2 separate regions of the Homo sapiens genome follow, and region 1 is linked to region 2. The links come from fine-mapping of genetic effects on gene expression. A gene starts in region 2. The other region holds a variant in brackets. All regions are shown on one strand. Distances are from middle to middle. Region 1 overlaps PARVB (parvin beta). Region 2 holds the start of PARVB (parvin beta).

What was found.
Region 1: its variant is fine-mapped to the expression of PARVB in whole blood (TOPMed, PIP above 0.99).

The regions. Positions count from the first base shown.
Region 1 is chr22:44,170,024-44,175,499 of GRCh38, forward strand. PARVB (parvin beta) reads left to right here. Exons shown (of 13, transcript NM_013327.5): 13 at 1-2,916. It also overlaps a transcript of PARVG not described here. Among named protein-coding and RNA genes, the nearest start is that of PARVG, 8.2 kb to the right of the region's middle. RefSeq lists enhancers at 74-595, 2,410-2,589, 2,600-2,649, 4,747-5,476. The variant G/A (reference allele first, on the strand shown) is at 3,300.
Region 2 is chr22:44,021,785-44,027,024 of GRCh38, forward strand. PARVB (parvin beta) reads left to right here and starts at 2,518. Exons shown (of 13, transcript NM_013327.5): 1 at 2,518-2,667. The coding sequence starts at 2,556. LOC124905131 (a long non-coding RNA gene) reads right to left here and starts at 991. Exons shown (of 2, transcript XR_007068125.1): 1 at 1-991. RefSeq lists silencers at 2,386-2,495, 2,526-2,645, 2,716-2,765, 2,816-3,025 and enhancers at 3,796-3,875, 3,886-3,965, 4,006-4,055, 4,126-4,175, 4,676-4,785 and 1 more.

The DNA.
Region 1 (5,476 bases), 150 kb after region 2:
AGACAAGTTCTCACTGTGTCACCCAGGAGTAAAGTGGTGCCATCTCAGCTCACTGCAGCCTTGATCTCCCAGGCTCAATTGATCCTCCCACCTCAGCCTCCCAAGTAGCGGGGACCACAAGTGCACACCACTAGGCCCATCTAATTTTTGTATTTTTTGTAGAGATGGGGTTTCACCATGTTGCCCAGGCTGTTCTCAAACCCCTGGGCTTGAGCGACCCACCCACCTCAGCCTCCCAAAGTGCTGGGATTATAGGCATGAGCGGACATGCCCAGCCTGCACCCCTCTTTTTAGAAGGGCTGCGGTCCTATTGGATTAGGGCCCACTTATATGACCTCATTTAATCTTGATTACCTCCATAAAGACCCTGTCTCCAAATACCATCACATCAGAGGTGCTGGGGTTAGGACTTCAGCATGTGGATTTGTGGGGGGCATAATTTGCCTTGTACCGGGAGGATATGAAGTGTTCATGTTACTCTCCCTGTAGCCCTGAGAGCATCTCCCTTAGAGTATCCTATAAAAGGAGTCGCTGCTCACTCAGTTATGGGTTGTTCACCCCCTCGCTCACCCCAGCTCTGCAGAGAACTGGGGATCCCATCGGCCATGCTTTCTGGGCTGGCCTCTGGTCGCAGTCAGTCCCTCGCTGTGGCGCCCCCCCCTCCCCCAGCTCCTTCCCAGGGTGATGACCCGCTGACCCCCTGGGGTGCACCTGCTGCAAAGCAGCCCCCTTCCTTGGCATCTCTCAGCATTCTCCGTAGTGAGCCTGGCCTTTCTGATCTTGTTAGCTTTTTGTCTTCCTGCCGCAGATCAGAGCTTTGGAGTAAGTTTTGATATGAAATCGAATGCCAACACCGAAGTTTTAGAAAACAGTTTAATATTCCCTCTCAGTTCCGGCTGTTGCTAGGCTGGGGATGGGTTCAGAATAGCCATTTTGATGGAGGTGATTTCCCAGCAGGGGAAAGAAATAATTAAAACAGCATTACGGTGTCTCTTGCGGGATGCAGTGACATTCAAAAGCCACACTGACAAAAAGCCTGGGGCTGGAACGTTCTGTGCTGCCTGCATGGCATGTACAGGACCGCGGCCCCCTGGAGCTGGTGGAGTGGCCCAGCCTTGCCCTGCTCACAGGTGGACCTGGAGAGGGCACTGTGCCTTCCCAGGGATTGGGATTTGAAAAGAACAGAGCTTGGCCAGGTGCGGTGGCTCACGCCTGTAATCCCAGCACTTTGGGAGGCTGAGGCAGGTGGATCACTTGGGGTCAGAAGTTCGAGACCAGCCTGGCCAACATGGTGAAACCCCATGTCTACTAAAAATACAAAAATTAGCCATGCATGGTATGTATGCCTGTAATCCCAGCTATTCGGGAGGCTGAGGCAGGAGAATTGCATGAACCCAGGAGGTGGAAGTTGCAGTGAGCTGAGATCATGCCACTGCACTCCAGCCTGAGCAACAGAGTGAGACTCTGTCTCAAAAAAAAAAAAGAAAGAAAAAAGAAAAAGAAAAGAACAGAGCTGTGATTTTCAGCCAAAATGAGCAGCCCTGGCCCATTCTGTGTCATCAGAGGGGAGAGGACGGTTACTGTGGGAGGGGGCTTCAGCTTCTCAGGGAGGTCCTGGCGGCCCCCATCTAGTAAACCAGTAAACCCATGCCTATCCTCATGCCCACGTCACACTCTTGTGGGTTTCAAGTCGAACAGTAAAAGGAATCATAAGATCTGTGGGGAAGCTACATGGGCACTTGTGTTTCACAACAGGGACCCTTAAAGGCGATGTTTCCAGCAAAGGATGTGATTTTTTTTTTTTTTTTTTTTGAGATAAGTTCTCACTGCGTTGCCCAGGCTGGAGTGCAGTGGTCATTCACAGACACACACATAGCAGACTACAGACTACAGCCTTGAACTCCTGGGCTCAAGTGATCCACCCACTTCTGTATCCTGAGTCCCTGGAACGGCAGGTGCACACCACCGCACCCGGCTTGGATGTGATCTTTTGTCCACATTCTTTTCCAATTGGTTCAAAGGTGTAGGTGTGCCTTTTGCATACCTGGGAAGGGCCCCATTAGGCTCGACTCCTCATTTTTCTCCATTCACCATCAGTTTGAGTCTGAATTCATAGCATGGCCTGGACAGATGCAGCAAGGGGCCAGTTCCAAGGCAGAATTCAGGGTGAACTCGATTCCTATAGGCTTGGGATGAATGGCTGCTGGGACATGAGGCTTGGGTGTGAGATGCCCCGTCTGCTGCTGCTCTTGGTTCTTAGTTCAGAGAAATTCTGGGACCCTTCCTCCTCCCGGCACCACGTTTTCAGTGAATGGTTCTTTGAAGAGGAACCCTGGTCCATAGGAACTGAGTGAAAGCAAGGCCAAGTATGTCCACCCATGGGGACAAACGTCCCAGCACAAAGGGGTCTCAGGCCTGCAAGGCCCAAGTGGACGCTCGGACAAGGGCAGGAAGGTATTTGCTGATTCTCCTTCTCCATGTGACGTGTCTCTCAACCCACACCAGCTAGGGGAGCCTCCCGCAGCTTCAGTTCCCCTTTGACGCCCACACAGTGTTATGCAAGCACCGAGCCCAGAGTCCCGCTGGGCCGTGGTGTCCTAATTGTCTTGGTGACAAAGAGCAATTTTATTTTAAAGCAACTGAATCCTTTCCCCCTGTTTTGTGTGCCAGTATTTTACTGTCTTCTTAATTGTTTTAAGCAATGTTTACTTTGGATTTCTGGATGTTATATAAAAGCCACGAAAACCCTGGCCATGCTGTTTGTCAGGCCCACCTGGCTGAGTGCAGGAAGCAAGCGCTTTTCAGGAGCTCACTGCAACACCGGGCAAACACTTCTTCCGCCAGGGATGCGGTTAGGACAATGCCACGTGGCGTCACAGTATGCTGTTATTTATTCCAATAAAGACCTCGTGAGCATGGGCCTGTCCACCGTCTTTGTTTGGCTGCTGTTTTAATCTTTCATGCATTTAGCAGTCATGGATGGTGCCAGCGAAGGAACAGGTGCCAGGGCGTTGTGACTCCACCCAGCGCTGCTTCCCGGGACCTTCCAATTGGACAGGAGCTGGGGGAAGAGCTGGTTCACAGCCCTTTGTGGGGGATGGGACTTTGGGAACCCCAAACTTCTGCTGGGACCACAAGGAGAAGAGGGCAGCAGAGTCACAGCTGCAGGTGAGTAATAAAGGCTCATCTGCCCCTCTGCCTGGGTCCAGACCATACGTGCACAAAGCTAGCGGCCAGGAGCACAGGCTGCATGACACATGGAGGTGGTCTCCTTACTTTTCATGATGTGACGTCACTGG[G/A]CCTTGCATGCTGACCAGTAAGTGACCGCTGTTGACTCTGAAAGGCAAGGAACCCCTGTGTGGCGGAGATGGTGGCCTGCCCTCCGTGCTGGCCCTGCCATAAACTCTCCTTGGCACAGGTCATAGCAGGTTTCAGGTGCGTCGAATTTTACGAAATGATGATAAAATTGTGACTAGTCCAGGATGGGTAGCCTGGAGAGAAAGGCAACCACGCTATTAAAAAAAAATAAGCTAAAAATTATAAACTGTGGATGGAAGGAATCTGGGCTTTGGAGAAGTGCCTGGGTTTGTGTCCAGGTTTGTCACTGTGTGACCGTGACTGCGGGGAGCGAAGTAATCCACACCTTCCAGCTGAGGGTTCTGAGGGACAAATTCAACCTCCTTCTTTCAAAGTCAGCCATTGTCAGCAGAGAGGGAGGTTCTGCCCCTTGGGGGATCTTTGGCAATGTCTGGAGACAGTTTGGGTTCTGGGCAGGTAGCTGGTGGGGCCCGGGTTACAGCTTAACATCCCACAGTGCACGGGACAGGCTCCCTTCTCCCCAGCAAAGAATCACCGGGCCCCCCTGTGCACTGTGCTGAGGTTGGGAAGCCCTGCAGTAGAGTGCCAGGTCCTTGAGCTGGCCTGTCTTCGCCTGCACTTTTATTGGGTAGGACTCAACTGTTACTATTGATGAGGATAAAATATTTTCCACTGAAATGCCGAGTTTTCAAGGCCAGCAATGGTGCAGAACCTTCTGGGGATCTTCCGATTGGTTCTGTTCAGCAGTCGTTTACCAAGGGTCTGGTTTGTCCAAGGCTGGGGCAAGTGGCCAGTGAGAAGAGCGTCCCCTGCCCTTGAGCTGGTGGAGTGAGAGAAAATGCCCAGAAAGGAGGGGTGCGGGTGGGGCAGGGGAGTGAGAGGGAACTCCCAGAAAGGAAGGGTGCAGGTGGGGCAGGGGGGTGGTTACCTGTCTGGAGAGGGACAGCTGAAGCCTGGAGATGGTGTGGTGGAAGCCAGTCTTCGAGAAGGAACAGGACCTGAGTGCTTCAGGTGCACCGGAGTAGGGACTAATCCAGGTGGCTTTAATTCTTTGTCTATTATAAAAATTGGTTTTGGGCTGAGCCTAGTGGGCTCTGGCTCATGCCTGTAATCCCAGCACTTTGGGAGGCCGAGGTGGGCTGATCACTTGAGGCTAGGAGTTCAAGACCAGCCTGGCCAACATGACAAAACCCTGTCTCCGCTAAAAACAAACAAACAAAAAAAAAAACCCACAAAAAATAAAAATTAGCTGGGCATGGTGGCGCACACCTGTAATCCCAGCTACTCGGGAGTCTAAGGCATGAGAATCACTTGAACCTGGGAGGCGGAGGTTGCATTGAGCCGAGATCACCCCACTGCACTCCAGCCTGGGTAACAGAGTGAGACTCTGCCTCAAAAACAAAAAAGAAAAGTGTAGGTGATATAGGATGGTTCTGAAGATGCTCTTAGCCTGACCTGATTCTCCGACCTTTCTCACTTGTTCTCAAATATAACTGCCGTCCGGGCACAGTGGCTTATGCCTGTCATCCCAGCACTTTGGGAGACTGAGGCAGGTGGATCACCTGAGGTCAGGAGTTCAAGACCAGCCTGGCTAACATGGTGAAACCCTATCTCTACTAAATATAAAAAAATTAGCTGGGCGTGGTGCCAGGCACCTGTAATCCCAGCTACTAGGGAGGCTGAGGCAAGAGAATCACTTGAACCCAGGAGGCGGAGGTTTCAGTAAGCTGAGACTGCACCATTGTATTCCAGCCTAGGCAACAAGAGGGAAACTCGGTCTCAAAAACAAAAAACATTGCTTCTGTCCCATTCTTTCAGGCCAATGCACTGGTGTGAGCTGCATGTCCCCAGAAAGGCCCCCCAATTCAGCCGTCACCTCCCCAGGGGGCCGTGGTGGGGAGGGGGCTCTCTGCTTAGGACAGGGCCCCTCCTTTCCTGGTGGCCAGTCTCTGGGGGAACTGACATTGCACGGCCACTTGCCCTCAGATGTGACAGAACTGGCAGAATCTGAGAATCTCGAGAAGGAAGGGACCTTCTGAGGTCACCTCTGTTCATCCTTACCCAGGCAGGAATCCCCGGCCACCGCAGGGACGGGCATCTCTGTTCCTTCCGCAAGGACAGTGCCCTGGGGTTGGGCAGCTCAGAATTAGTGAGGTTT
Region 2 (5,240 bases):
ACACACACACACACACACACACACACACACACAGGGCCTAGTAGAGACGGAGGCAGAGACGGGGCAATGCTTCTACAGGCCGAGGAACATGGAAGATTTGCTGGCAAACCCCAGGAGCCTGGAGAGATGCAGGGAACAGATTTGCCCGTGCAGCCTCCAAATGGAAATGAACCTAGCCTACACCTTGATTTGGATTTCTGGCCTCCTGCTGAAATCCTAATCCCCAGTACACAGGGGTATTACAAGGACACGGTCATCTTGGATTACAGCCCACTCTGGTGACTTCATCTTCACTTGATCATCTGCAAAGACCCTTGTGAGATGATGATATTTATCAATTGGTTTTCCTCCACCGTGCCTGCCTCATAATTCCCGTAGACCTTGTTATTTCTCTCCAAACTGTGAGAGAAGACGTTTCTGTTGTTCTGAGCCCTCCAGCTCATGGAACTTTGTGCTGGCAGCCCCAAGACACCCCAGTGTCCTCTCCCTGTCTCTTCTGCCTGGTGGGTCTTCTCCTCCTTTACTGAAAGGAAAAGGGCATTTGATCCTTGTTCCAGGTCAAATGTCCCTTCCCTGCAAGCCTCCTCTGCCCACAGCACTTCTCCCCCACCCCATCCACATGGTCCCTGTCCCTCCTCCATGCTGGCCACGCTACACGGCCACTGTGTCCTGTGCCCACGTTCTCCTTGACCACAAACTCCTGGAGGACAAAGCTCTGTGCCCTTGGTCTTCACGCCCCTGGCTGAGGACTGGGCCTGGCACCAACTTGACCAACAGAAACATGTACTGCACTGGGGGGACTGGGGGGCAGCCAGCACAAAGGGAGACAGAAAAACCATCTCAACCCACACACCCAGAGCTGAACCCACTTCTCCCCAGGTGCCGTCCTCTGCTGAGTGATCCACCATGGCCTGGCAGGACACCCAGCCTTCACTCCTCCTACTTCTTTTTTTTTATTTTTTATTTTTTTTTTATTTTTGGAGACAGAGTCTCGCTCTGTCACCCAGGCTGGAGTGCAGTAGCATGATCTCTGCCCACTGCAACTTCCACCTCCCGAGTTCAAGCGATCCTTGTGCCTCAGCCTCCCAAGTAGCAGGGATTACAGGCATCCACCACCATGCCCCGATAATTTTTGTATTTTTAGTAGAGATGGGGTTTCACCATGTTGGCCAGGCTGGTCTTGAACTCTTGACCTCAGGTGATCTGCCTGCTTTGGCCTCCCAAAGTGTTGGGATTACAGGTGCGAGCCACTGCACCTGGCCTACTCCTCCTACTTCTTCAAGGCTGGGGCTTCTGGCTGTGAGCATCTCAGAAATCTGTTTGCTTTTCTCCTAAGTCACCGTCCGCCTGCCTGTGCCTTCTCTGTCTCCAGCACCTGCTGAGCAGCCATCAGCCAGAGGCAACATCTGTGACATCACAGCTCAAAGCCCTGCCTGGGTATCTAGGCTGGGCATGGTGGCTCACACCTATAATCCCAGCACTTTGGGAGGCCGAGGCAGGCGGATCACCTGAGGTCAGGGGTTCGAGACCAGCCTGGCCAACATGGCAAAACCGCATCTCTACTAAAAATACAAAAATTACCCGGTCGTGGTGGCGTGCACCTGTAATCCCAGCTACTCAGGAGGCTGAGACAGGAGAATCGCTTTAACTCAGGAGGTGGAGGTTGCAGTGAGCCGAGATTGTGCCACTGCACTCCAGCCTGGGCAACAAAGCAAGACTACGTCTAAAAAAATAAAATAAAATAAAACAAAACAAAATAAAATAAAATAAAATAAAATAAAATAAAATAAAATAAAATAAAATAAAATAAAATAAAATAAAAATAGCCCTGTCTGGCAGTCCTCGGGATGAAGCCGTTTCCTCTGCTTCCAACACATGCGAGGCCTGTCTCCCCTCCTCTCCCCTCCCTGGCACCCCACACTGTCCCCAGGGCCTGCTCTTCTGCTCACCTCATGGTACCGGCCTGCAAGCCATTTCCTGGGGCCTCCCCGTCGCCTCTTCCAGAAACAACTCCTGGAACTCCCCTTGGAGGTCAGGCCAATGACCTGTGCCCCGCATTGCCCTCCATCCTCTAAGCTTCCCGTGGGTAGGGACAATTCCCAGTTCTGAAGGGCTCCCCCTGCCCCGGGCCTGGCTCTTGGCAGAAGCTTAACAACAGACCGGCCACGTTCGTGTGACCTGATTCTCTCCGGCTTTCAGGACGTCCTGAGGCTGCACCCACGTGGCAATGGTGTCTGTCGCGCTGTCGCCTGGATCCGGCACCACTAGCGGAGCCGAGCAGAGCCCAGGGCTCCAACGCGTAGGGAAAAGGCTGCGCCGCTCCCGGGGTGGCCCCACGCCCCTTCTCTGAGCTTGAGCGGCGGCGCGGGACGGGGACGGCTCTGGCCGGGACCAGCAGGCCTCGGGCATCCGGGACGCCGGGGCCGCGCTCCAGGCCAGGGGCGGGGGCGGGACCGGGGCGGGGGCCGGCGGCGGGGCCGCGCCCTCGGCCTCTCCCCGGGGCGACCGGGCGGCTCCACACGCGCTGCGCCCGCCGCCGGCCCCACGCGCGGCCCATGTCCTCCGCGCCGCGCTCGCCCACCCCGCGGCCCCGCAGGATGAAGAAGGACGAGTCGTTCCTGGGCAAGCTGGGCGGCACCCTGGCCAGGAAGCGGAGGGCGCGCGAGGGTGAGTGCGCGCCCGCGCCCGCCGACCCCCGGGGACCTGCCCGGCGGTGCCCGCCCTCGGCCCTAGAGCCCCACGAGGCCGCCCCCGCCCTCCCCCACGCACCCCGCCCGGCCCACGCGGCTGCGCGACCTTCGGGACAGGCCAGGCCTTTGACCCAGGACCCGTAAACAACGGCCGGGACCTGGCGCGTGGGGCCGCGGTGGCCTCCGGAGTCTGCCAAACGCGCGTGCGGGCGCCTGCGCGGCGGGGACCTCGGGCCACCGTGCGGGGCCCGCGCCTGCTCTGCCTGCCGGGTGTTCAGCTCTTCCCTGGGCCAGCGGCATAGCCAGCCGCGCGGGGTGACCGTTCATTCCATGAGCAGTGACGCTCACGTGTGCAGGGCACTCTGGGCAGACACGGCCTGGGGGACCCACTACTGGGTGTTGCGCGGGCGCCCTGCAGGGTGCGGGGCTCAGGGCGTGCAGGGCTGAGGCCTGGGAGGCCTGCGAGCAAGAATTGCAGAGATCCCATTAAAAATTTTTTTTTTTAAATTTTTTACTGCGTGTGCTCACGAAACACTACCAACCTCGTACGTTTTAAAGATTGTTAGAGTTGCAAGGGATAGTCTGGTGTCTTTAAGTGTACCGCTTGCCCAGGGCCTCCTGGGAGATACATTCTGGAATTTTCTGCTTGGGTGGGGAGGTTCTGCCCCGGGACCATGCCCTATAGTGAGATTTCGGATTGGTGAGAGGTGAGGGGAGCTGCTGTGGAAAGGCAGATGGAGAAAGGCCGGCCTCAGGTGGGTCCCCGGGAAGGAGCCCTCCCATAGCGGGTATGCAGTACGGTTTCCTTAAACCACCTGGGCCTGACATATCCCCTGGGAACTCTTCCTGTGCCTCCAGGGATTAGTGTACCCCGGGATGCAGGTCCCCCATTCATTTCTTCCCTGGGACTCTTGTATTCCTAGGGATGTGTGTGCCCCGGGAAGACATATGACAGATTTGCCTCTAGGCATGTGTGTGCCCCCATGCACCTGCTCCCCAGGATTTTTGTACAGTGCAGGGAACGCTTGGTTCCCCAGACATTTTCTCCCAGGGATGCCTGTGCCCCCAGGGATGCGTGTCTTCCCACCCGTGATCCTGTTCCAAGAGGGCAGGGTCTTGTCCCCTTCAGTAGGTCTCCTGGCGGATAGGTCACTCTTCTCTCAAGCCTTACACTGGAGGACCCACTGTAGCTTGTATTGGTCGGTGTTGGTCACGTCTCCTAAATGACATGATTAGTGGCTGTCACCCTTCTATCATCCCCACTGTTCTTCCATGCAGTCATCAGCACCCTCACCAGAAATCATTTCGGTTCCTCTTTATGGCTTGCAACGATTATAGACGCAAGTGACGCTCCCCTCCCAATTCAGCCCACAGCCTGTGGAGCGCCCGCCATGGGCCAGGTGCTGCTTAGACCCCAGGAAGAAAAGAGCGGGGGCGGGGTGCTTGCTTTCGTGGAACGGGGAATGAATACATAGACAACTGGCGCTGTGATGACGTGCCCCGGAGCACATAGAACAGGGCGATCAGAGCCAGGGGAGGCCTCTGAGGAGGGGACACTTGAGTGGAGGCCAGAAGGAACCAGAGGAAAAAGTCTTTCATAGAATGGCAAGGAACCGGAATGTTCTGGGCTATTGCAGCTTTTTCTAGGTGCCGTTTACGCTCTCGGAATAGGAAGAACACACACCCAAAGTAATGGACTGGGCCCAAATTCCAAAGTACGCAGTGCTTCTCCTCCTTGCCTGTATGAATTGATGTGTGTCTAGAAAATTCAGGCCCAGCCTGGTTTAATTCAAATGCACCAAGAATTCCGGTAGCAGGAAGCATCCTGTGCTGAATAGAACGGGCGTGGAGGCAGGAGGAGGAGCAGGACGCCGGGCACTGCTGATGCTGCTTTCGCTGGGGGTGAGCTGGGCGCCCTGCCTCGGTTCTCAGGGTTGGGGTGCCTGGCAAACAGAGGGCCACAAACCCTCCTTGGATCTAGGCACAGGAATTGAGGGACAGGCTGGATTGGGAAGGGTTTAGCGGCTTCTGTGTGGTCTCCTGGGAAGTGGAAGAGTCAGGAAGACTGGATAATGAGGGCTTGAATAATTGAGAGTCGCTGGTATTTCCGCAAGCCCATTTGCCTTGGCAACATGCGCTTCTGCCACTCCAGGGTGGAGCAGCCCCTGGCCCTGACTTTGGGCCGTCAGAGCTATGCTCGGTTGCCTACCAGGGAGTGACAGGGCGCTTGGGAGGTTTCCACGACCCTGCCTGCTGCACCGTCGGCTTCATTTCCTCCTTTGTTAGAAAGTTGAGGGTGGATTTGGGAGAACGGATGTGGCTCCGACATGTTCCTGAGTTGAGGACTCTAAGGGAGGAGGGGGAAGCTGGGGGAAGGGGCGGGCTCATCGGTGAGGTTCCAGATTCAGGCAGGGGTGTGACAAGGCACGGAGGGACTTTTGGGAGGGATGGTTGGGATGAGTGACGTGGCCTGTTCCAGAGGAGAGGGGTTAGGAAATGTGGGGCCCTGGGGTTTGGAGGAAGCAGTGCAGGAAGTGTCTGAGAATGAGC